Homo sapiens: one gene and its partners. The protein of the gene in region 6 purifies or fractionates together with the protein of the main gene of each other region. This does not show direct contact. Each region holds a gene or a part of one and is shown on either strand. Other genes may lie near its edges.

Region 1 (4,035 bases), on a different chromosome or scaffold from region 6:
GCTACTTGGGAGGCTAAGGCAGGAGAATTGCTTGAGCCAGGAGGGTGGAGGCTGCAGTGAGGCCAAGATCATGCCATTGCACTCCAGCCTGGGTGACAGAGCAAGACTCCATCTCAGGAAAAAAAAAAAAAAAAAATATATATATATATATATATATATATACACACATATATATTAAGTTAAAACCCTACTGAAATGAAACCAATAAAATAAAATTCAATTTAATTAAAAAATAGTTCCTGAAATATTAATTTTCAAACAATTCTATTTTAGCTTTGACTCTGAACAAAATATAAACCTCAATTTCAAAATATCACAAAGATTGGCTGGGGGCAGTGGCTCACGCCTGTAATTCCAGCACTTTGGGAAGACGAGGCAGGTGGATCACCAGAGGCCAGGAGTTCCAGAGCAGCCTGGCCAACATAGGGAAACCCAGTCTCTACTAAAATAATACAACAAAAATTAGCCGGGTCTAGTAACCCCAGCTACTCAAGAGGCTGAGGCATTAGAATCGCTGGAATCTGGGAGGTGGAGGTTGCAGTGAGCGGAGATCATGCCACAGCACTCCAACCTGGGCAACAGACTGAGACTCTGTCTCAAAAAAATAAAAATAAGGCCAGGTGCCGTGGCTCACACCTGTAATCTCAGCACTTTGGGAGGCCAAGGTGGGCAGATCACTTGAGGTCAAGGAGTTTGGGACCAGCCTGGGCAACACAGTGAAACCTCCTCTCTACTAAAAATACATAAATTAGCTGGGCATGGTGGCACATACTTGTAATGCCAGCTACACCAGAGGCTGAGGCAGGGGAATCGCTTGAATTCGGGAGGTGGAGGTTGCAGTGACCTGAGATTGTGCTACTGCACTCCAGCCTGGAAGACAGAGTGAGGCTCCGTCTCAAAAAAAAAAAGAAAAAGAAGAAAATTTAAATTAAAAATTTAAAAAATCACAAAGACTACAAATACTCAGGTTTAAGCAAATTCCCACCTTTCTTGAATTAACAGTAATTCATATTTGCTTTGTCATAAATGTAGATATTTACCTGCCCCAATGGAATGAAATCCTAAAAGCCTAGTGTTCCCAAATGATGAAGAGAAAGAAACATGCATATTTTAATTTAGAATTTTGATTCAGAATTAATTTTAACCTAGCTGGAGTATACATAATCATTTATGTATTTATTTACTTATTTAAGAGACTGGGTTTCATTGTGTTATCCAGGCTGGAATGCAGTGGCACAACCTTGGCTCACTGCAACTTGTACTTCCTGAGCTCAAGCGATCCTCCCACCTCAGCCTCCAGAGTAGCTGAGACTGCAAGTGCACTCTACCACACCCAGCTAATTTTTGCGGAGACGAACGAGTCTCGCTATGTTTCCCACACTGGTCTCTAACTCCTTGGCTCACTACAGCCTCAAGCCCCTGGGCTCAAGCAATCTGCCTCCCAAAGTGCTGAGATTACAGGAGTGAGCCACCGCACCCGGCCTAGTGGATAGTGTATACTAAGCAACATGTACCCTGCTTTTGCCTAAAACATACTGAAAACATGGCATTGAACACAATCACAAAGTTGGGAGCTGAGAAAAATCATATACTGTAAAATAAATCTGAGATATTAATCTCAAGAAGCTCCTGAAAATGTCTCAAGAACTCCTATGCTGCACTCTCCCTAATAATTTAGACTTTCTACAGATATTTTCTGATCATCTACAGTGTGTCAGGCACCATGCCAGGTACCAAGATGCCATGGTGAGGTATACACAAAACCGGCTCCTGCTTGCAGGAAGCCTACTCTCTAAAACAGTGCTTGCCAAGCTCGCCTGATCACAACTTCGGAGCTTGTTTAAGTTCAAAATCGGCTTCCCTGCTGTGGTGAGCCACAGTCCGTGGCATTTTGATCAGGTGCTCCCAATGATTCCTACGCTCTAACGGGTTTGGGAGGCAAGGGTGGGGGTAAGCTCGAGAGCCCAGAGACATCCCGTCCAGCGGGAGCCCCACCTCTAAAGTCCATGTCGCTCAGCATCCTTCCCCCTGACTAGTGGCCCAAACACAGCACGAAGCTGAGGTGGGTGGAACGCTTTTCAAAACAACGCTCTTTGATGAGCCACCGACAGACTTGCTCGCCTCCGGGGACGAAGAGCTCACTCCTCACAAACCCCACCCCGGAAAGGTAGCACCTGAGCATCCCGGGCTGCGCCGACACCTGTCTCACCGCGGGTGCCGCTTACCGCTCCGGTGGACTCCAGTCCCCAGATTCCGCCCCACGGGGGCTGGGGGAAAAGGGGAGGCGCTGGGCGCATTAGGCGCTGACTGTATACCGACACCCCCCACCCCGGTGTGCGCAGGCCAACACCCATACACACCCTCACACACCCACACACATCCACACACACTCTCGCGGAAACTGAGCCAGGCAGGCGGCGGACCAGGTCCCGCCGCCTCACGGCTCGCGGCTGGGATCGAACCCGGACTGCGAGACGCCTTCCGCCTCGCAGGCGCTCCTCTGCCGCTGAGGCCCGGCCCGGCTCCCACCGCCGGAGTTTCACAAAGAAAGTCTCCCGGCCCGAGCCCCTCACGCACTCACCGGCGCCGACGCCGGCGGCGACTCTGGCTCCCGCCGCCTTCGGCTCCTTGCGGGGGTCGGCCCTTGGGTCGGCTCGGGCGCCGGCGGCGGCGACTGCTCCATCCCCACGGGGCCCGGGCCGCGTCCGCCTCGAGCTAACGGTCCCGCCAGCTAGGCGCGCGCGCCGGTTCCGCGCGCCATGTTCCCGCCGTGCTGCGCGCCGCCGCGGCGCCCCTCACTGCCCCCAAACCGCGCGCGCGCCCCCGCGGGCCCACACATGCACCGCGCACGCGCGCGTTCGCCGCGCCCCCTCCCCGCGCGCCCCGCCTCGCGCCCTCTGGAGCTGGCCGCTGTTCCCAGTGTCTCGCCCACCCCCGCCGGGCCCGTCGGACTCGGCGGGTGAGCGCGCGGTTCCCGGCTCCGCACCGCCGCCTGCCTCTCTGCAGACCACCCCGGACCCGACCCCTCGGCCATTTCCCCACACTGCCGCTTTCGCTTCCCCCACGACGCGGGGCCTGGGACGACGGTCTGGGCCAAGAGGAACTTCCCCGCAAGAAGTGTCGAGTTAAGGACGCTACTAAGGGGGCGGGATCGCCATCGTGGAGGTGTGCAAGCACGTGCCTGCGTCCCGGAGACAGCCAGACTCAACGGAGAAGCTGAGTTCAAGTCCCACATCTCCACTAACCCTTGCGTGTTAGGGTCAGGGCTTCGGGACTTGTTTCTCCTAAATCTTTTTTTTTTTTCTTTTTTGAGACGGAGTCTTGGTCTGTCACGCAGGCTGGAGTGCTGTGGCGCGATCTCAGCTCACTGCGAGCTCCGCCTCCCGGGTTCATGCCATTCTCCTGCCTCAGCCTCCCCAGTAGCTGGGACTACAGGCGCCGGCCACCACGCCCGGCTAATTTTTGTATTTTTAGTAGAGATGGGGTTTCACCATGTTAGCCAGGATGGTCTTTATCTCCTGACCTCGTGATCCTCCCGCCTCGGCCTCCCAAAGTGCTGAGATTACAGGTGTGAGCCACCGCGCACGGCCTGTTTCTCCTAAATATAAGGACTCAATATAATAATAAGAGAAAGCCTCAGCACCGCGCCTAGCACTTAGTAGGTAGTGATCAAGAGAGAAGACCTCTTAAGTGGTTTTAATGGTTAAGGACCACAGGTTCTCAAGAAAGGGAAATCTCAATTCAAGTCCCGCCTCCATCTCTTGAAAACTGAGAAACCTTGAACAAGTCACTCAGAGGAGCCAAAGATCCTTGATTTCTACATGTGCAAAAGGGGAGTGTGGCAGTAGCACTGCACAGGGTTGACTGAGCTTTCAGGGAGATGATGACTGTACGATCATGCCTCTCTTAATCACGGGATGGTTCTGAGAAATGCCTCCTTAGGTGATTGCGTCATTGTGCAAACAGCAAAGTGCATTTACACAAACCTTGTATAGCCTTGTATAGCCTACTACACACCTAGGCTGTATGGCGTAG
Region 2 (3,500 bases), on a different chromosome or scaffold from region 6:
TTACCATGTTGACCAGGCTGTTCTCAAACTCCTGACCTCAGGTGATCCACACACCTTGGCCTCCCAAAGTGCTGGGATTACAGGCGTGAGCCACGGCGCCCAGCCCAAACAAAGCAAGGAGTCCCTGGGTGGGCACAAAAACACTTTTTTTTTTTCTTTTTTTTTTTTTTGAGACGGAATCTCGCCCTGTCATCCAGGCTGGAGTGCAATGGTGCAATCTCGGCTCACTGCAACCTCCGCCTCCCAGGTTCAAGTGATTCTCATGCCTCAGCCTCCCGAGTAGCTGGGATTACAGGCACCCGCCACCATGCCCAGCTAATTTTTGTCTTTTTAGTAGAGACAGGATTTCACCATGTTGGCCAGGCTGGTCTCAAACTTCTGACCTCGTGCTCCACCTGCCTTGGCCTCCCAAAGTGTTGATATTACAGGTGTGAGCCACTTGCACTTGGCAATAACTTTTTTAAAAAAGTAACCATGGCCAGGCACGGTGGCTCACACCTGTAATCCCAGCACTTTGGGAGGCTGAGGCAGGTGGATCGCCTGAGGTCAAGAGTTCGAGACCAGCCTGGCCAACATGGTGAAACTCTGTCTCTACCAAAAATACAAAAATTAGCCGAACGTAGTGGTGCATGCCTGTGATCCCAGCTACTTGGGAGGCTGAGGCAGGAGAATCGCTTGAACCCGGGACACAGAGGTTGGAGTGAGCTGAGATCACGCTACTGCCCTCCAGCCTGGGCAACAGAGTGAGACTCCGTCTCAAAAAATAAAAACATTAAAAAAAAATTAAACTGCTAGTTAGATTTAGAGTTTTGCTTAAATTTAACTTCATCTTTTGGGATGTTTATTTTTGGCAAGAATACTTCATAAGTAATACTAGGCATTATGCACAAGTTTAGTGTCTATTAAAGTCAGTACGTATCATGTGGAATTTATTTGGATAAGAGAGAAACTAGTAGATAAGCAAATCAGTATTGCATCTGGTTACTGTTTTTTAGCCAGAAGATCAGCTGCCATGTTACTTGACTCACACCAACCCTAGAGTGGATGAGATTGTCCTTAAGAACCTTCACCTTAATAGTCATGTTAAAGAAACGACAAGAGGACCTCGGTAAGGACAAAATGTCAGTGCTCAGTTACTTTAAGGAATGACGTCAATCCTCTTTTGTTCATTTCAAGTTTATTTAAATGTTCTATTCTAGATACTGTCCCTCCATTGAATCAAAAGTTTTGCGTTTTCCAAACCGTCTACATCAGGTTTGGTTGGAACCTGAAGGAATGGATTCTGACCTTATCTACCCACAGGGGTTATCTATGACGCTACCAGCTGAGTTACAAGAGAAAATGATCACATGCATCAGAGGCTTGGAGAAAGCTAAAGTGATTCAGCCAGGTAAAGAAGATCACAAGTGCCCTTCAGTATAAGGTCAGCATTGTTTTAATGGTCAGTGAGGAGGCCTTAGCTACAGTCATTGTTGTTCAGAGCCTCAGAAGATGAAGCCCAACACCTATACATTTTAAATAGTCTGTTTTTTGTTTGTTTGTTTGTTTGTTTTGAGACGGAGTTTTGCTCTTGTTGCCCAGGATGGAGTGCAATGGTGCGATCTCGGCTCACCACAACCTCCCCCTGCCAGGTTCGTGATTCTTCTGCCTCAGCCTCCTGAGTAACTGGGATTACAGGCATGCATCACCATGCCCGGCTAATTTTGTATTTTTAGTAGAGACAGGGTTTCTCCCTGTTGGTCAGGCTGGTCTCAAACTCCCGACCTCAGGTGATCCACCCGCCTTGGCCCCCCAAAGTGCTGAGATTACAGGTGTGAGCCACTGCTCCTGACCTAAATAGTCTGTTTTTAAAGGGCATTTAAGGGTAATGCTTGCATCTCTACCTTGAGCAAATCCAGCTCTGTATTTACTTATTTAATGTCTTTGTTCTTTGGTCAGGCTACGGTGTTCAGTATGATTACTTAGATCCCCGTCAGATCACCCCTTCCTTGGAGACTCATTTGGTTCAACGACTCTTCTTTGCTGGACAGATCAATGGCACCACTGGTTATGAGGAAGCTGCAGCTCAAGTAAGAAGTTAAGATATTAATGTAAACTGAAAGGGACTATTTAACTGGTATTTCTCCTTTTAATGTCTGTTGTGTTAACTATGTAGATCTTAGATACAATTCATACTAATAGAAGACAATTTATGTTTCAGGGTGTTTGGAGATGGCTTTTGTAGATAATAGGGTTTTTTTTTTTTTTTTTTTTTTTTGAGACAGAGTGTTGCTCTGTTGCCAGGCTGGAGTGCAGTGATATGATCTCCCAGCTTCAAGCGATCCTCCTGCCTCAGCCCTCCCTAGTAGCTGGGACTGCAGGCATGCACCACAACACCCAGGTAATTTTTGCATTTTTAGTAGAGATATGGTTTCACTGTGTTGGCCAGGCTGGTCTCAAACTCCTGACCTCAGGTGATCCACCTGCCTTGGCTTCCCAAAGTGCTGGGATTACAGGTGTGAACCACCTTGCCCAGCCAATAATAGGATTATTAAAACACTATGGCTTTATTACTCTTTTCTGAGCTCCTGTGTGATATCATATTTTGATTAGATGTATTGCTTGTGAAGTTTAAAATTTATTTTAATATACTTCATTAGAAATTATTATATTATTATTCCTTGTAAGTCAGAAATTATTTTATTTTTATTTGCAAGTGGGAAAAGGCTAGAGAAGTTTCACAGGTGGGTTTTAAAAAAAAGATTAACCGGCTGGGCATGGTGCGTCACACCTGTAATCCCAGCACTCTGGGAGGCTGAGGAGAGAGAATTGCTTGAGCCAGGAGTTCGAGACCAGCCTGAGTGATGTAGTGAGACCCCCATCTCTACAAAAATATGTAAAAATTAGCCAGGTGTGACGGCATGTGCCTATAGTCCCAGCTACTTGGGGGGATGAGGTGGGAGGATTGCTTAAACTCAGGAAGTCGAGGCTGCAGTGAGCCAAGATTATGCCATTACACCCCAGCCTAGGTAACAGGGGAAGACCCTGTCTCCGGATAAAAAAAAGATTAGTCCCCGCAGAGTGCAGCTTATCAGGAAGATTAGATGGATATCTCTGAAAACAATGAATCATAGCCTTCTAAAGTGATATATTACCCATATTCTATTTCTGAATATGGATCACATTTTCTACCTCTATTATATCCCTTAGGGGCAATACTTGCTTTCTTCCTGTCCCATGCCATTGTTTCTGAGTAGTGTTCTGAATGGGATAGCCGTTTGTTTAGTTCATAATGGCCTTTTAAACATTTCAGTGCTCTTGTAGGGTGTGATAGCCGGAATCAACGCCAGTCTTCGGGTCAGTCGCAAGCCTCCCTTTGTGGTTAGCCGAACAGAAGGTTACATAGGAGTCTTGATTGATGACCTCACTACTCTGGGCACCAGTGAACCATACCGCATGTTTACCAGCCGAGTAGAGTTCCGTTTGTCACTGCGCCCTGATAATGCTGACAGCCGGCTCAC
Region 3 (3,500 bases), on a different chromosome or scaffold from region 6:
CTGCTGAAATGCATCTCCATTTCATCTTGGCTCCCCGGTCCTCCCCAGCACTGCGTTTCTGTGCTGACGAATGAGCACTGAGAGGCTCCTTCCCTGCTTTCTGCTTCTGTCCTGCCGCTATGGGTCGTGGACATTTGCCATCAACAGGCTCCCTGTGGCCCGCGCCTCCTACTGGAGGCACTGAGGGAGGCGCTCCCACCAGCACACCGGGTTACCTGCTTGGCTGCAGGGGTTGTGTTGTGGGTGTTCTGGTTTTGGATGGGGGTAGAGGCCCTTTATAAAGTTTCAAGGGGTGAGCTGGAGTCTACTTCTCATCAAAGAAGCTGGAGGCTAAGACTGACACTATGCCAATTGGAGAAGACCAGAACCAGGGGCTCCCCTGCAGATCAGAAGCGCCTGACTGGAAACATAGCAGGGCGATGGGAGGAAAGACAGACTTGTTCCCTATGGGGCCCGAAGCCATGGGTCCGGGAAAGAGCTAGACAAAGCCAGCAATGAGTGATCTAGATCAGAAGTGGTGGCATGAGGAGATGAGCTTGGCAGGAGGGAGATGAAGGAGGGGCCACAGTCCCAGGCTATCTCTCAGATAAAGGAGGGCAGGATGCTGAAGGGCATATCAGGTCCCTCTGGGCCTGCTGGCACCCAGGCAAGATGTGAGGCTCGACCCACCATTTTCTACCAGGGGTCAAGCTGAATGGGCCAGGGACCTTGTCCTTTCCAGGAAGGGCTTAGAACTTCAGCAAGTTCCAAGCTCAGCCACAGGGAAAGGTGTCTGCAGGGCAGCTGATGCAGTCAAAAGTGCAAGGGGAGGAGTGACAGGAAGCGGGCAGAGACTCTGAACTGCTGGGGTGCAGCGTCTAGGCTGTGAGCTCCTAGGTGGCCTGGGGATCCCTGGCTGACTATGACCTCTGACCTGCAGTGACCTCTTGGCTCAACTGTCCCCCTTGACCATGACCCTCATTACTGTGGGTGCCCCCTGACCAACTGGGAAAGTCTGGTTGACGTGACCCTCTCCTGGGTGGATCCCAATGTGACTGACTGGGACCCTAAGGGGCTTGCTCCCCTTGACCCACAGTGACCCTTCTGCTGACTTTGACTGCAAGACTGGGACCTCTTGTCCAACTCCAACCCTTGCCTTGGTGGTCCAGGCTTTTCCTGACCACATATGACCCTAGGCCAGTGGGACACTCTGTGTCCCCTCCATGTCTGTCCCCCTCTGGCTGCCGGGACCCTGTGGTGGGTTGGGACCATTTGGTCACTGATGTCCTCTTGACCAAGGGTGACCCCTTGACTGAACCAGACTTTTTGGCCACTTGGGACCCTAATGACCCTCTGACTGACCCTGGTCCACTGAGTGACTGCCACCGCATGACTGGCTACGCTCTCCTGACCAACGGGACCCTCTTCGGTGGCTGGGACCCTTCATCCCCCTGGGCCTGATTGTGACCGGCTGCCCCCCATGTCCTCTGGTGCCCCAGCCCCTGCCCGCCTGGGAGCTGGCGTGGGCAGTGCCAGCCGGAGGCAGTAAGGAGTCACACTCACGCCCGGCTGCAGCAGGAGGAAGGCTGGTCGGAGAGGAAAGAGCATTGGACAACGACACGCGACTAGGGCTAGAGAGATTGGCTACATCCTGGCTCTGGCTGGTGACCGAGGACTGTCTCCGCAGGGCCCCCTGAAAGGAGGCCCCGCTCTTGAAAGTATTGACTACTTCAATCTGCAACGGAGGAGAGAACGAGACAAGTTGCGAGAAGAACGAGCACAACGGCTACATGACTGACAGGGCAACGTCACAAGAACAGCCGCAGCCACGGCAACAACGACAATGTCACTTAAATCAAAACAAAAATACCAGACACACTCCAAGGCTCTGAAAAACGTCTGCTCAGCTCTGGGCCCACCTGCAGGCCCCAGGGTCCCCGGGAGGACACAGGGGGTCCGGCCTTTGTCCTGTGCTAGTGGCTCAGGGGCCAGTGGGCTGGCCAGTGGGGGAGGCAGTGATTAAACATGGTATCTGGAGGGAAGAGAGCAGTGTTCAGCCTCCCTCAGGTACAGGCGTGGAGGTAGAGGGTGTGGTGGGGGTCCTGAGGTGGACAGAGCTTGGCCTAAATTCCAGCTCTGTCACTTACTAGCTAGCTGACCTTGGGCAAGCCACCTCTCTGAGTCGAGTTTCTTGTTCTTAAGAAGGGTCAATGCCACCTGCCTGGCAGGGTTATCTGTAAGTGGCAAAGCACCTGACCCGTGTTAGCATTCCGCAAGAGGCAGGCAAGACAGGCGCCCCTGCCCACTCAAGAAATCGCAGTCCTTGCTTCCTCCCGTAATCTGGAGACCCCTGCGTGGCTTTGCCGCCAGGGCAGTGACAGCACCAGGGACATATTCACTGAGTTGTCCTGGACCTCCCAGGAGGTGGGGGCAGGCTGGGAGGGGTGGCTGCGGGGCCCTAACCAGGGAGGGTGAGCCCAGGCCCGTGTCAGGCACCTCCGGGTCTGAAACCGGCTTCCAGTCCCCACCCCAGCTGTGCCAGCTCAGTAGAAGGGGCCATCTCCTGGACCTTGGTAACCTCTAAAACTGGGGGAGTCACATCTACCTCCCAGGGCTGTGAAGGTCACATGAGGTGAGGTTTGGGACAGGGTACAGAGGGGTGGGAGGTGACCCAGGTGAGCTCTCTGCTACATCGGATGGAAATGAGGTGCTGGGCCACAGCTGGCAGGATGGTGGCCAGGTGGCTGCTTCTACACTGCACTTCGCCCAAGCATGCTGGGGCATGGAGGAGCTCCCACTCCAGCTCCCCAGATGGTCTGGGCAAGAGACCCACAGAGTCCCTTCTGACCCTCCCCTCGCAGGGCTGTGACAGCACTTGTGAGCTACAACACCTGCTCCAGGCATAAGGGGACCATGTGAGAGCATGTGGTATGTGTGTGGGGGGGTCGGGGGAGGCGCGCAGGTGTGTCGTGTGCCACGTGGCAGCCATGCTCTCTCTGCTCTGGGGAAGAAACCTGCTTCTGGCTGGCTACGCCCTGCACCTGTGCTCCCCTGGTGTGCTTGGTGTGTGCATGTGTGTCTGTGTGTGCTTGAGGATGACTGACCTTTGCTCCCCAGAGCCTCTCCACCCCCTAGGGGAAGCTGGGGAGAGCAACTGAAGCCCCCGTGGAGGCGGCGGACCCCCTGACCACCACGCCCTGGGGGACCCTGGGCGACCTGGCCTGCAGCTTCTGTCCAGCCTCACACGGCCCCTGTGGGTGGGTGCCCCCAGCCCTGAGCGACAGTCCCCTCACTCACCTCTGCCCTCAGAGCCACCCTTCCCCACCCTCTCAGGGAAATCCCCCTGGAGACCATGGTGGGTGTGACCCCTACCACTTCCCCGTGCTGCCCTGAGAGGGCACAATGGGACCTCTCTGAGGAGGCCGTGCTGTTCCTTAGCAGCCACAGGAGTGGGTGTGCAAGTGGCTGGTGAGAGCTGGCCGGGACCCCTCTGTAGCCACCCTCCCTCAGCACCAGAGCTG
Region 4 (2,530 bases), on a different chromosome or scaffold from region 6:
ACCTTGTGATCTGGATTCTCTAGAAGGGTGAGGATAATGGGTTGAACACCTAGATTCCCAAGAGAGCGATGGTGCTCTGGGGTCTCTGGAAGGGGTTGTCAAAGGCTGTCACTTTTAAATGGAACAGGGGCTGTTGGTGCTGGTCTGTGAACAGCTGGAGGTCATATCCCTGGCACCCTGAGGGGCTGGTGGAAGGCTGGGATATATCTGAATGGGGCAGGGACTCCGGGGGCTATGTGGTACTGCAGCCCAGTCTGGGCAGGAGTTGGGGGCCTACAGTGAGCTCTGGATTTGGAGGGGGTGGTCCCTGTGGGAGCAGGAACTACTGATTCCCTGGATTCCCAAGGGGAAGGATCCCTTGTTGGATTCCAGACTTGGGTGGAGTCTTTGAGGGTGGATGTGTTGCCTGGAGGCCTTGTTGGTACCTGTTTGAGCTGGGGCCAAGGGAGGCGGATTGACCCCTGCAGCCTGACTGGATTTGGGAGCCGCCCATCTTTAGCTGGCCACCTTGGCCTTCTCTCTCTAGTGGCACCAGGGACCCTGCTCTGCCTCCCCACTCCTTCCCTTCCTCCCCTTTCCCTCCTCCCACCCCTCCATTACCGGCTGCCTGGTGCTGAATTATTGATGGCCCCTGTTGTTGGGAAATGACAACAACCGCAGTCCCCCCACCCCCCACCCCCCACCCCAGGCTGCCCACCCCCTCCAGAGACCAGCCAGCCCACCGCCAACCTCTACCCAAGGTTAATGCTGGGGGTGGGCAGGCAGGTGGGCAGGGAAGGAGCTGAAGATGAGAAGGCAGAAGTGGGAAGAGGGTGACAGCTCCAGGGTGCCTGCTCAAGCTCCAGGCCTGGGCTGGGCCCTCCAGCCAGGTGGGGCCTGGATGCCTGGGTCTGGGGAGGGCAGTGTAGCTCAGAGGGTCCAGGGCTTGGGGGGCCTCTCAGACAGTCTGGGTTTCACTCTCCAGGGAAGACAGAAGCCTCTGTGTGTGCAAGCGCTGACCTCATCGGCAACCGAGTCACCCCACCCCTCCTGGTCCTTTTAAGAAAAAAAAAAAAAATCTTCCTCTCAGGTCTTGGGGTTGGGAGTAGGGGCTCTGTTGGGTCTTCGGAGGAGACAGTGCATGTTTCTAAGGAGGACATCCGAGGAGCTGGGGTGGTGCAACTGGCTCTGAATGGGAGTGGGGGTAAGCTGGGGGGCTGTACCCCAACCCGGCTGGCCACGTGTGCCCCTTCCTGCCCCTCCCCCACTGGCAGCCCTGCCCGCCAGCCTGGCTTGGTGCCTGGCCCCCTGGCACTGGCCCCGGGACCCACCGCCGACGGTTTCCTGTTTCTCCCGGTGTCGCTGGAGCGGGCTCCAGCTTCCCCTCCCCCCCAGCTCCTGTCTAGCCCCTCACATGCAGACAGACAGACACGCACTGTCTTCTCTTAAATCAGATCTTGACTTGGCTGAGGTGAGACAGATTTCCCCATGTTGAAGGCAGGGCAGAGGTGGACCCTGGGATGGGACCCAGAGCCCTGGACTTGGCAGCCTGACCCCAGGCCACTCCCTGCCTCCCGTCCCCAGGGTTTGCCTTCCCGGATTGGGCCTACAAGCCAGAGTCGTCCCCTGGCTCAAGGCAGATCCAGCTGTGGCACTTTATCCTGGAGCTGCTGCGGAAGGAGGAGTACCAGGGCGTCATTGCCTGGCAGGGGGACTACGGGGAATTCGTCATCAAAGACCCTGATGAGGTGGCCCGGCTGTGGGGCGTTCGCAAGTGCAAGCCCCAGATGAATTACGACAAGCTGAGCCGGGCCCTGCGGTGAGGACGGGCTGGGGACCCCTGAGCACATGTGGAGTGCCCCCCCGGGGTTGCACAGCCCCTTGCCTGTGGGAACAAGCATTGGGTCTGACCCCTGGCTTTGCCAAATCCTAGCTGTGTGACCTTGGGCCACTCCCAGCCCTTCCCTGAGCCCCTTGGTAACACAGACGTATCCTGAGGAGAGATTACAGTCACCAGTGGATCCTCTAGTCCTGCCTTAGATGTGAGGAGAGAGCTGGTACCCACCCTCTGGGCACTTGATTTGTCTTTTGTGGCCTACGTTCCTCAGTTGGCCTTTGGGAACCACACCTAAGTGCGTGTTAAGGTGTGGAGTCTAGACCTGGGTCCCACGTACCTGACCTTCCCAATGGCATTTCTGTACCCACAGCTATTACTATAACAAGCGCATTCTGCACAAGACCAAGGGGAAACGGTTCACCTACAAGTTCAATTTCAACAAACTGGTGCTGGTCAATTACCCATTCATTGATGTGGGGTTGGCTGGTGAGTACCAGGGATGGTTGGTGTGGAGAGGGTCTACATGCCCCTTCAGGCTAGGCCAGGGGCCTTGACACTGTCTCCCTTCTGCCAGGGGGTGCAGTGCCCCAGAGTGCCCCGCCAGTGCCGTCGGGTGGTAGCCACTTCCGCTTCCCTCCCTCAACGCCCTCCGAGGTGCTGTCCCCCACCGAGGACCCCCGCTCACCACCAGCCTGCTCTTCATCTTCATCTTCC
Region 5 (3,500 bases), on a different chromosome or scaffold from region 6:
TTTAATGTTGACAGTAGTTAATCTTGGATGGTAGAAATAAGTGGCTTCTTCTACCTTATACTATTCTTTTCACATCTCCGCTAATGAGCCTGTATTGTTTTGATAACACAAAAAAAATTTCAGAAAAAAAATTTTTTAATAATATTTGAGTAACTTTTTTATAGGTTCAATGTATTTTGTATCCATGTTCAGTAACCATCCACTTACTATATCTTTGAAAAACTTAAAAAATCCATTAACTTGTGAAATATCTTCTAAGACAGGCATTTAGAATGCATTATTGCACTCTAACAGCTTCTTAATGAGAACATTTGGCTTTCAAGATTCTTGGTCTGCAAGGAAAAACAAATAATTGGAGCGGGGATGAAGGGTAGAAAACTTTATGGAAGGTAGAGATGTTCCTTTGTAAGATGCCTCATTTTCCACAACTCAGAATCTATACTTGAAGACCACCTTATTGGAAGACTAGCTTCTCCAGTCAAGTTTCAGATGTGTAAAACATCTAGACTTGAACCACAGCCCATTTTCTTTAAAAATGGTTTTTGCCATTCTTACCTCCAAAGAAATTAAATAATAAGCAATACAATCAAATACAAAATTATTTCTGCTTTTTTTTTTTTTTTTTTTTTGAGACGGATTTTCACTCTGTTGCCCAGGCTGGAGTGCAGTCGCTCAATTTCGGCTCAACGCAACCTCCGCCTCCCAGGTTCAAGCAATTCTCCTGCCTCAGCCTCCTGAGTAACGCCAGGCTAATTTTTGTATTTTTAGTACAGATGGGGTTTCATCATGTTGGTCAGGCTGGTCTCAAACTCCTGACCTCATGATCCGGCCGCCTTGGCCTCCCAAAGTGCTGGGATTACAGGCGTAAGCCATTGCGCCTGGCCCTCCGCTTTTTTTTTTTTTTTTTTTTTTTTTTTTTGAGACGGAGTCTCGCTCTGTTGCCCAGGCTGGAGTGCAGTGGCGCAATCTTGGCTCACTGCAAGCTCTGCCTCCAAGGTTCACGCCATTCTCCTACCTCAGCCTCCCGAGTAGCTGGGACTACAGGTGCCCACCACCACACCCAGCTAATTATTTGTATTTTTAGTAGAGACGGGGTTTCACCGCATTAGCCAGGATGGTCTTGATCTCCCTCTGCTTTTTAAAGATACTAAAAGTAGTTCAACAACTCAGTAATGCCTGTTAGCCAGTTATTTAAATATCCAAACATAATATTCCACTCTTACTTTCCACAGATTATCATTCCTTCTCCTAATTCATGTTCATAGATAAATATATAGTCCTCAAATGTTAGTCAGTATGCTTAAGATGCCTGGATTTAAAATGCTCTCTCTAGAGAGACACACAGTACTCATTACGTCTGTATTTCTTATTCTATAAAGCAAACATTTCATATACGATACAAAAACTGCAGCTGATTTTTTAAATTAAATTAAATACAAAAAAGATGTTTAATGGATTAAGATCTCCCAATCCACAGTTCTATGGTTCTAACCTCAGCTGGATCTAAAGAGGTGGGAAAAGTAGAAAGTACACTGGCCCCAGATTCTAATTCTATCTCTGCTACGAATTAGCTTTGTTGCCTTGGAATTCCACTTAACCTCACTGGATCTGCTAGCCACATCTAAAAAATGAGGGGAAAATTAGACTACTTAATCAAGGTTTCTACAAACTCTTTAAAAAATGATTCTAGGTTCATATTTCTACAGTCTTCCCAAATATCTTCTTTTCCTAATTCTCAGCAGTAATAAACTTTCCCTTGGATTAACCTTTCAGGTATCAACAATGTGCAAAAGTGTAGACAAATTTTTATACTTCCATTTAAAAAATACATAATGTCCATAAGATTTATCCTATATTATTTTGGCAAATCCTATTAGATATTTTTTAATAACTATAACATATCTAAAAGCCCCAGTTAAAAATAAAGATTACTCAATATACATTACACATATAGGCACATGACTTATTGTGCAATAACTGCCAGAACAGTTAGCAATGGAAAAAATACTTCATTCCTTGACACTAATCAGAAAAGACAAGACTAGGGTGTTTCTTTTTTATAATGTTCAAAACAAAAGAGAACACTACATATATCAAGTGTCTCTACATAAAACTGGATTAAATTAGGTATCATTTCAGTTTTAAAATCCTAAGGAAAGGCATTCTAAGTCTGAGCATTCTGTAACTAAGCTGCATTATCTTTTAGACTCAAACCAAACCCTACATATAATAGTAATTCAGTCTCATGAACCTTTTGAGTAAGTTAAATGACATCTATTAAATCTTCCTTAATGTTTAAGGCACATGTAGTGACATTTTAATGTTTACAAAATGTTGATTTTTACAAAAAGAAAATTGGCTTCAGCTGAAGCTTTTCATACCTGAGAAGTCGCTTCTTAAATGTGAATAAGTAAATGGTCACCTTTCTAGAGTGACACATAGTACTCAATACATCTGTATTTCTGATTCTATAAAGCAACTATTTTATATACAATACAAAAAGTGCAGCTGATTTTTTAAAAGGCTAAACTTACTATTTTGGACACATTGTTTCTACCTAAAAATCTCTAAAATCATCTTTAATCACTAACTTGGATTTTAATCACTACATCCTCAACATATTCTATAAGAATCAGGGGTTAGGTTAGAGCCTTGAGGTTAAAAAAAAAAAAAAGTATGAAATTCACTGAGGGGGTCCCTTTCAGCATCTTAAAAGCCACAGCCAATTACAGCCCAGATGTCTTTTTTCTTTTTTAAATTAATATTACTTTTAATTGACAAATCATAATTGTATACATTTATGGAGTACAATGAGATGTTCTGATACATGTTTACAGTGTGGAATGACTAATTCAAGCCAATTACACATCCATCACCTTATCTTTGTGACTTTTTTTTTCTTAACTGAAGCTACCCACACCATTACAATTTTAAAAAGAATAGTCTAATGATAACAGTGGGCTGGGCACAGTGGCTCACGCCTGTAATCCCAGCATTTTGGGAGACCAAGGCAGGCATATTACTTGAGACCAGGAGTTCGAGAACAGCCTGCCCAACATGGTGAAACCCCGTCTCTACTAAAAATACAAAAATTAGCTGGGCATGGTGGCAGTCGCCTGTAGTCCCAGCTACTCGGGAGGCTGAGGCACGAGAATAGCTTGAACCCAGGAGGCAGAGGTTGCAGTGAGCCAAGATCATGCCACTGCACTCCAGCCTGGGCAACACAGCGGGACTCCGTCTCAAAAAAAAAAAAAAGATAATGGTGGAGCCACTGGTTCACTTTGACTTCAACAGCTTTGCAGAAGTTTTGTTGTTGTTAAATATAATAATCTAATGGTGGGGGCGGGGCAGGGGGGAACACATGATGCGATTACTTTCCCCAATCCATAAATCCACTACTGCAGCCCACATCTGGATAGATACAGTGATTCAAAGTAGAAAATGATACCAGTTGAGTCCCTTCTCAGTATTTTTCAAGCCATCGTTCCTGCATTAAACAG
Region 6 (3,500 bases):
GCTTGGGGAAGTCTTTGCTGAGTCTTGCTAATGATGTGTCTGTGTCTCTCTGCAGACTGTGAGCTGCTTGTCCCCATCCTGCGGCCGTCCTGGGGACACAGAGCCCTCCGTGGTGCCCGGGGATTGGATTGGAGCCAGGACCTCACTTCCTCCTCTGCCCCTGCCCCTGCCCCTCCCAGCACCTGGCCCACACCCTGCAGCCCGCCCCATGGTCTGGCCCTGGGTGGCGATGGCGTCCAGGTGGGGTCCCCTCATTGGCCTGGCTCCGTGCTGCCTCTGGCTCCTGGGGGCAGTCCTTCTGATGGACGCGTCTGCACGGCCTGCCAACCACTCGTCCACTCGAGAGAGAGTAGCCAACAGGGAGGAGAATGAGATCCTGCCCCCAGACCACCTGAACGGGGTGAAGCTGGAGATGGACGGGCACCTCAATCGCGGCTTCCACCAGGAGGTCTTCCTAGGCAAGGACCTGGGTGGCTTTGATGAGGACGCGGAGCCGCGGCGGAGCCGGAGGAAGCTGATGGTCATCTTTTCCAAGTAGGTGCCGCCATGTGCCCAGACTGGGGGGCTGTCCGCGTGCGCTCGCCTGTGTGTTCCTATCCTGGCTTTGCGCGGTGGGGGGCGCCGGGCCCTGTGTCGGGACCTGCCGGGCTGGGAAGACGTGCCGGTGATGAGCGCCACTTCCAGCCTGCTGTGTTTGCGCGGAGGCCTGCGCTGGCAGCCCAGAGCCGCTCCTTGAATGCCCTGGGTCCGCCGGGGGCTCAGAGGGCCAGAGTGGGCCTGTGTGGCCGTCCCTAGGACAGCCTGGAGGAGCCCACGCGGCACTGCAGTGGTCAGCGTCCTCCATGCTGAGGGGCAGACGCCGGCCACGGGCAGCCTCCGCAGGCTGCAGCCCCAGTTGGACGAGGCCTGGCTGAGGAGTGAGGGGCTGCCACAGGTGGCTGGAGAGCTGGTACAGGGTGCTCTGGGCTCCTCCTGACACGCCCTCTACCCTGTGTGTTTGGGGTCCCTGTCACACACGGGCCGCGTATCACACGCAGGCTGGGGGTGTGTGGGGTTGGCTTGTTTTGCTGGCCTGGTCGGGAGCAGAGCTGTGCTGTCAGTGGCCCATCCTTGGCCGTCACTGCCCCCACCCTGCTGAGTCCCGAGACCCTCTTGCTGCCTCTGTGCCTAGTGCCGAGCTTTCTCCCCCGACCCCATCCCTGAGTCTCGAGAGCCTGTTGTGAGGGGTCCAAGATGGGTCAACCTGACCACTCACCCACAAGGAGCCAGGTCCTGCACGGGCGCCTTACTCCTTACGGCACGGCCGGGGTGCCCTGCGGTGTGGCCCTGGAACCTACTTGCACTCAGCGCTGGCCTCACCCCTGGAGGCAGAGCAGGGTCAGGGCGTGCCCGTGAGTCCCCCAGGCCAGCCAGGGTGCCGGGCAGGGAGCCGAGGTGCAGGTGAGAGAACACCCTGGGCCTCCTGGGACCTGCGAGACCTGGGCACAAGGAGGCAGCCCCCGCCGCAGGGCCTGGCCACGAGCTCACCTTCCCGCAGGGCCTGGCCACGAGCTCGCCTTCCCGCAGGGCCTGGCCACGAGCTCGCCTTCCCGCCGGGCCTGGCCACGAGCTCGCCTTCCCGCCGGGCCTGGCCACGAGCTCGCCTTCCCGCCGGGCCTGGCCACGAGCTCGCCTTCCCGCAGGGCCTGGCCACGAGCTCGCCTTCCCGCCGGGCCTGGTGCTCCAGGACCAGTGCAGAGGGGCAGGTGGCAAAGCTGGTGAGCAAGGGGATTGGGCAGGGCTGGGGTCCTGGGGTGCAGGAGCAGGTAGGAAAGGTGTGAGGACTGGTCTGGCTGTGCCACGGCCCTTGGGCTGAGGGCCAGGCGGGAGGGCCCTGAGGATCCAGGCTTTCGGGCGGAGCACAGGTGAGCTGGTGGGACGGAGGCACGGTGCCAGCTGGAGGACCTGGGCACCAGGTGTGGTGTCCCCTTGCACCTCTCCTCAGATGGTACGGTTCGGGGGTCCTTGCGTGGCCTGAGTTCACTTGGTGGTGAGCTGACCAACCCACGAAGAGGCTGCTGGTGCCCCTGGGGCCTGTCAGGTTCACCACCCCTGAGCTCACGAAGGCCTGGCTCGCGGCATCACAGGGGAAGGGTCCCCGTCCCTGCTCAGCCGGTGCTGGGGGTGGGCTGCACGCCTGGGCGAGGGGAGTTGAGGCTTCTGCTCGGTGCGTCTCCAGCTGGACCGGGGTTTCTTTTTGGTGCCTGTAACGAAACCCCAAGCTGTCTCGTTTGAGGAGGTGGGCATGGGGAGTGGGAAGTAACAGCAGGTCTCCGGGTCTCCCTGACTCCTGCGCCGAGCGGCGACAGCGGCCGCTGTGGGTGTTTAGACTTCCCTTCCCACACGCGGGTCCCTTCTCGCCCTTCTCCTGCGTAGGGCCCCGTCCCTCCAGGACCCACGTTCACTCAGCTGTCCTGTCTCCTCTGTCTCCTCTGGGCTGGAACGGTGTCTCAGACTCTCCCGTTTTTGTGAGGACGTAACAGTTCTGAGAAGGGCTGGGTAGGAGGTTTTAGGCTGTCCCTCAGTTTGGGCTTGTGGGATGTGTTTTCTCCTGACCGTACAGGGTTGAGGGTTTCTGGAAAGAGCCCCCAGAGGGGAGGTGCCATGTTTCCTCCTGACCGTACAGGGTTGAGGGTTTCTGGAAAGAGCATCCAGAGGGGAGGTGCCCTGTCCTAGGGGCTTTTGAGCTTCACTTCCTTCCCGCTTCCCTGCACCACGAGATGCTCCAGGCTTTCCTTCCCGCTTCCTGGCACGGTGAGATGCTCTGGGCTCGCCTCCGTGCCACCTGCCCCAGTGCAATAGCTGCCGCCTTTCCAGGAAGCCCTGTCTCCCGTGGCTGGAGCTGGAAGCCAGGGTCTGGGCACTGGGCGTCTTGCCCTTGTTCTCTCAGGAGCCAGAACTTGATAACATGCGTGTGTGCACCAGCCCAGTCACATCTGTGTTCTGCCAGCCCTGTTCACGTGTGTGTGCTGTGTACACGTGGGTACCGGCCTGTGCACTTGCGTGTGTGCGTGCCAGCTCCATGTACGTGCACCGCCCTGCAGCCGTGTCTTCAGGCACCTGAGTTTGGATGAGTGACTCCTTGCCGACATCTTGACTGGAATCCTGCGCCATGTGGTTTCTTTCCACCTTTTTGCTTTTTGCTCTGCCTCGTGTGTGTCTGTGTCTGTGGAGTGTGTAGAGCGTGTGGAGTGTGTGGCCCGTGTCTGTGGCATGTGGAGTGTGTGGCCCGTGTCTGTGGCGTGTGGAGCGTGTGGCCTGTGTCTGTGGCGCGTGTGGAGCGTGACCGGAGCATTCGAGGATGCACGTGTCCACGTGAGACCCACCAGGTGCCCCACCTGCCACATGGCCACCCGGGTGGCCCCGTCCCCAGCCGGTGTGTTTTGGGGACTGTGGAGCTGAGGGTGCCTCCCAGGCCCGTCCACCTCTGGGCTGCTGCGGCTGCTGAGGGAGGGGCGCGT
Region 7 (3,500 bases), on a different chromosome or scaffold from region 6:
GCCTCGGACTCTCAAAGTGCTGGGATTATAGGTGTGAGCCACCGCGCCTGGCCTAAATATGCCATCTTGATAAAGTCTGTGCCCTATGAATATTAGTCCAAACCACTTTAATACAGAGGGATAAGATGGCTGCACATAGACACCTAATAACGTCTGCTCCGCAACCAAGGTAAATTCAGCAAGAAGAGAGTATTTCAGGTGGACGAGTCTGTAGGAAGCATGCATGCCATTTGTTGACTGTGCTGCTGGGACAGGCTCCGTAGGCTTAGTTATGGGCAAAGCATTTTTGGGAATAGAAGGCAGCTGTTTCTTTGGCATAGTTCATCAAAGACTGGTTTTTGCATCCCCTGCCAATGTTTTCAGCTTCAGATCGTTTCCATGTAGAGCTTGTAGACATGCTCCAGAAAGAGTACATAATGTGTACTCCAAACAAAGAAATTCAGTAGTATGTCATCAGACTCTTCCGTCCTCAGCATTCAATTTACCAGCCTTCCGGGCATTGTGCCTCACCTCTGTGCCTTCAATGTAGAGTTCCCAGCTGCCTATCACCTTTGTGGCCCAGCGGCATCTCTGGCCACAGTGCCAGTCCTGCCCCTGCTTGCTCCCTGCCCTGTCCTGGCTTACTTCTTTTCTTTTCTGAGACAGGATCTCAACTGTGTCAACCAGGCTGGAGTGCAGTGGTGTGATCACGGCTCACTGCAGCCTTGACCTCCCGGCTCAAGCAATCCTCCCACTCAGGCTTCCAAGTAGCTGGGACTACAGGCACTTGCCACCATGCCCAGCTAATTTTTTGGTATTTTTTATAGAAATGGGGTTTCGCCATGTTGCCTAGGCTGGTCTCAAACTCCTGAGCTCAAGTGCTGGGATGATAGGTGTGAGCCACCACACTTGGCCTGGCTTATTTTACTTAGCATGTTTTCAGGGTTCATTCGTGTTTTAGCATGTATCAGAACTTCATTCCTTTTTATAGATTAGAAATATTCCATTGTGTGTGTGTGTGTGTGTGTATATATATATATATATTTTTTTTTTTTTTTTTTGAGGCAGGGTTTCACTCCTGTTGCCCAGGCTGGAGTGCAGTGGCGGGCTCTCGGCTCACTACAACCTCCGCCTCCTAGGCTCAAGCAATCCTCCCGCATCAGCCTCCCAGGTAACTGGGACTACAGACATGCACCACCACACCTGGCTAATTTTTGTATTTTTAGTAGAGATGGGATTTCACCATGTTGCCCAGGCTGGTCTCAAGCTCCTGGCCTCAAGTGGTTCACTTGCTTTGGCCTCCCAAACTGCTGGGATTACAGGTGTGAGCCACCGTGCCTGGCAGTATTTACCACATTTTGTTTATCCCTTCATCTGCTGATGGACTTTTGGGTTGTTTCCGCCTTTTGACTATTTTAAATAAAGCTGCTGTAAACATTGGTGTACAAATACTTAACTTAAATCCCTGCTTTCAGTTCCTTGGATTACATACTTAGGAGTGGAATTGCTGAGTCATATGTTAATTCTATGTTTAACTTTTTGAGGAACCTCTTGTTGCATTTTGAGTTGATTTTGTATAAGATATGAGGAGTGCTATAATAATTTCCAAACATCTTTTCATTCAGGGTGAAGGCAAATGTTTGTCCCAGGAGAAACCCAGGGCCTCTGGTCTCTTGAAGTCACCTGCCAGTCTGAAAGCCCATACCTGCAAACAGGACTTGAGCAATACCACAGAACTAGCCACAATCAGTAGCGTAAATATTGACATCTTACCTGCAAAAGGGAGGGATTCAGTGAGTGATGGCTTTGTTCAGGAGAATCAGCCAAGATATTTGGATGCCTCTAATGAGTTAGGAGGTATATGCAGTATTTCTCAAGTGGAAGAGGAGATGCTGCAGGACAACACTAAATCCAGTGCCCAGCCTGAAAACCTGATTCCCATGTGGTCCTCTGACATTGTCACTGGGGAAAAGAATGAACCAGTGAAGCCTCTGCAGCCCCTAATCAAAGAACAAAAGCCAAAGGACCAGGTGAGTGATATGCACACATGAGATACTGGTTTTGGAGAGAAGACTGAAAGTGCAGTTACAAATATGTGGGTTCTGTTGTCATTTTAGGAAAATCAGTAATTCTATGTATCAGTTTAAACATAGAAGAATATTTGCATCAAACCAAAAAGAAACCCAGTACCCTATAACAGTCACTCACCATTCCCTCTTGCCCACAACTCGTGGCAACATTTGTCTCTATGGATTTGCCTATTCTGAGGATTTCATATAAATGGAATCATACAATTTATGGCTTTGTGTGTTTGGCTTCTTTTTTTCTCTTTTTTTTTTTGAGACAGAGTTTCACTCTTGTTTCCCAGGCTGGATTGCAATGGCGCGATCTCGGCTCACTGCAACCTCTGCCTCCTGGGTTCAAGCAGTTCTTATGCCTCAGCCTCCTGAGTAGCTGGGATTACAGGCATGCGCCACCACGCCCAGCTAATTTTTTTTTTTTTTTTGAGACAGAGTCCCACTCTGTCGCCCAGGCTGGAGTGCAGTGGCGTGATCTCGGCTCACTGCAACCTCCGCCTCCCGGGTTCACACCATTTTCCTGCGTCAGCCTCCCGAGTAGCTGGGACTACAAGCACCCACCACCACACCTGGCTAATTTTTTTGTATTTTTAGTAGAGACGAGGTTTCACCGTGTTAGTCAGGATGGTCTCGATCTCCTGACCTCGTGATCTGCCCATCTTGGCCTCCCAAAGTGCTGGGATTACAGGCATGAGCCACCGCACTCGGCCGATGCCCGGCTACTTTTGTGTTTTTAGTACAGACGGGGTTTCTTCATGTTGGTCAGGCTGGTCTCGAACTCCCGACCTCAGGTGATCAGCCTGCTTTGGCCTCCCAAAGTGCTGAGATTACAGACATAAGCCACTGGGCCTGGCCTGCCTTCTTTTACTTAACCTGATGTTTTCAAGGTTTATCTATGATGTAGGATGTACCAACATTTTATTCCTTTTTTAAAAAAATTTCATTTTTTAATTTTTTGAGACAGGGTCTCTGCTGCTCAGGCTAGCGTGCAGTGGTGCAAACACAGCTCACTGCAGCCTTGACTTCCTGGGCTTAAGTGATCCTCCTGCCTCAGCCTCCTGAGTAGCTGGGACCACAGACATGCCCTGCTAATTTTTTTATTTCTATTTCTTGTAGAGAGATGGGGCCTTGCCATGGCCATGTTGCCCAGGCTGGTCTCAAACTCCTGGGCTCGACAGTCCTCCCAACTTGGCCTCCCAGCGTACTGGGATTATAGGCATGAGTCACTGGACCCTGCCTCATTCCTTTTTATTGCCAAATAATATACTGTATTTGTATTTGTGTGCCTGTGTGTGTGTGCATGTGTGTGTATACACACACATATATGTATTTTTTGTTTGTTTGAGTCTCACTCTGTCACCCAGGCTAGAGTACAGTGGCACGATCTCAGCTCACTATAACCTCTGCCTCCTGGGTTCAATGATTCTCGTGCCTCCGTCTCCC

Evidence for each region.
Region 1: the proteins of SDF4 (region 6) and TTC28 purify together in Homo sapiens (affinity purification with mass spectrometry; 3 studies listed by BioGRID and IntAct, with this or other methods). This does not show direct contact.
Region 2: the proteins of SDF4 (region 6) and MTO1 purify together in Homo sapiens (affinity purification with mass spectrometry; 3 studies listed by BioGRID and IntAct, with this or other methods). This does not show direct contact.
Region 3: the proteins of SDF4 (region 6) and ATP2B2 purify together in Homo sapiens (affinity purification with mass spectrometry; 3 studies listed by BioGRID and IntAct, with this or other methods). This does not show direct contact.
Region 4: the proteins of SDF4 (region 6) and ERF purify together in Homo sapiens (affinity purification with mass spectrometry; 3 studies listed by BioGRID and IntAct, with this or other methods). This does not show direct contact.
Region 5: the proteins of SDF4 (region 6) and ARL8B purify together in Homo sapiens (affinity purification with mass spectrometry; 3 studies listed by BioGRID and IntAct, with this or other methods). This does not show direct contact.
Region 7: the proteins of SDF4 (region 6) and NEK4 purify together in Homo sapiens (affinity purification with mass spectrometry; 3 studies listed by BioGRID and IntAct, with this or other methods). This does not show direct contact.

Annotation. Positions count from the first base shown.
Region 1 is NC_000022.11:28,677,041-28,681,075, forward strand, and holds the start of TTC28 (tetratricopeptide repeat protein 28), read right to left. Parts: upstream 2,801-4,035; 5' UTR 2,684-2,800; coding exon 2,582-2,683; intron 1-2,581. UniProt on the Homo sapiens protein: During mitosis, may be involved in the condensation of spindle midzone microtubules, leading to the formation of midbody.
Region 2 is NC_000006.12:73,478,737-73,482,236, forward strand, and holds part of MTO1 (5-taurinomethyluridine-[tRNA] synthase subunit MTO1, mitochondrial), read left to right. Parts: intron 1-995; coding exon 996-1,108; intron 1,109-1,199; coding exon 1,200-1,390; intron 1,391-1,556; coding exon of another isoform or gene 1,557-1,631; intron 1,632-1,938; coding exon 1,939-2,069; intron 2,070-2,260; coding exon of another isoform or gene 2,261-2,380; intron 2,381-3,292; coding exon of another isoform or gene 3,293-3,303; coding exon 3,304-3,500. UniProt on the Homo sapiens protein: Component of the GTPBP3-MTO1 complex that catalyzes the 5-taurinomethyluridine (taum(5)U) modification at the 34th wobble position (U34) of mitochondrial tRNAs (mt-tRNAs), which plays a role in mt-tRNA decoding and mitochondrial translation.
Region 3 is NC_000003.12:10,334,587-10,338,086, forward strand, and holds part of ATP2B2 (plasma membrane calcium-transporting ATPase 2), read right to left. Parts: intron 1,715-3,500; coding exon of another isoform or gene 1,543-1,714; intron 1-1,542. UniProt on the Homo sapiens protein: ATP-driven Ca(2+) ion pump involved in the maintenance of basal intracellular Ca(2+) levels in specialized cells of cerebellar circuit and vestibular and cochlear systems.
Region 4 is NC_000019.10:42,249,599-42,252,128, reverse strand, and holds part of ERF (ETS domain-containing transcription factor ERF), read left to right. Parts: intron 1-688; exon of another isoform or gene 689-740; intron 741-964; exon of another isoform or gene 965-1,183; intron 1,184-1,563; coding exon 1,564-1,798; intron 1,799-2,186; coding exon 2,187-2,302; intron 2,303-2,390; coding exon 2,391-2,530. UniProt on the Homo sapiens protein: Potent transcriptional repressor that binds to the H1 element of the Ets2 promoter. May regulate other genes involved in cellular proliferation.
Region 5 is NC_000003.12:5,125,292-5,128,791, reverse strand, and holds part of ARL8B (ADP-ribosylation factor-like protein 8B), read right to left. Parts: intron 333-3,500; exon of another isoform or gene 1-332. UniProt on the Homo sapiens protein: Small GTPase which cycles between active GTP-bound and inactive GDP-bound states.
Region 6 is NC_000001.11:1,225,502-1,229,001, reverse strand, and holds part of SDF4 (45 kDa calcium-binding protein isoform 2 precursor), read left to right. Parts: intron 1-55; 5' UTR 56-208; coding exon of another isoform or gene 209-229; coding exon 230-534; intron 535-3,500. UniProt on the Homo sapiens protein: May regulate calcium-dependent activities in the endoplasmic reticulum lumen or post-ER compartment. Isoform 5 may be involved in the exocytosis of zymogens by pancreatic acini.
Region 7 is NC_000003.12:52,750,441-52,753,940, reverse strand, and holds part of NEK4 (serine/threonine-protein kinase Nek4), read left to right. Parts: intron 1-42; exon of another isoform or gene 43-415; intron 416-1,604; coding exon 1,605-2,009; intron 2,010-3,500. UniProt on the Homo sapiens protein: Protein kinase that seems to act exclusively upon threonine residues. Required for normal entry into proliferative arrest after a limited number of cell divisions, also called replicative senescence.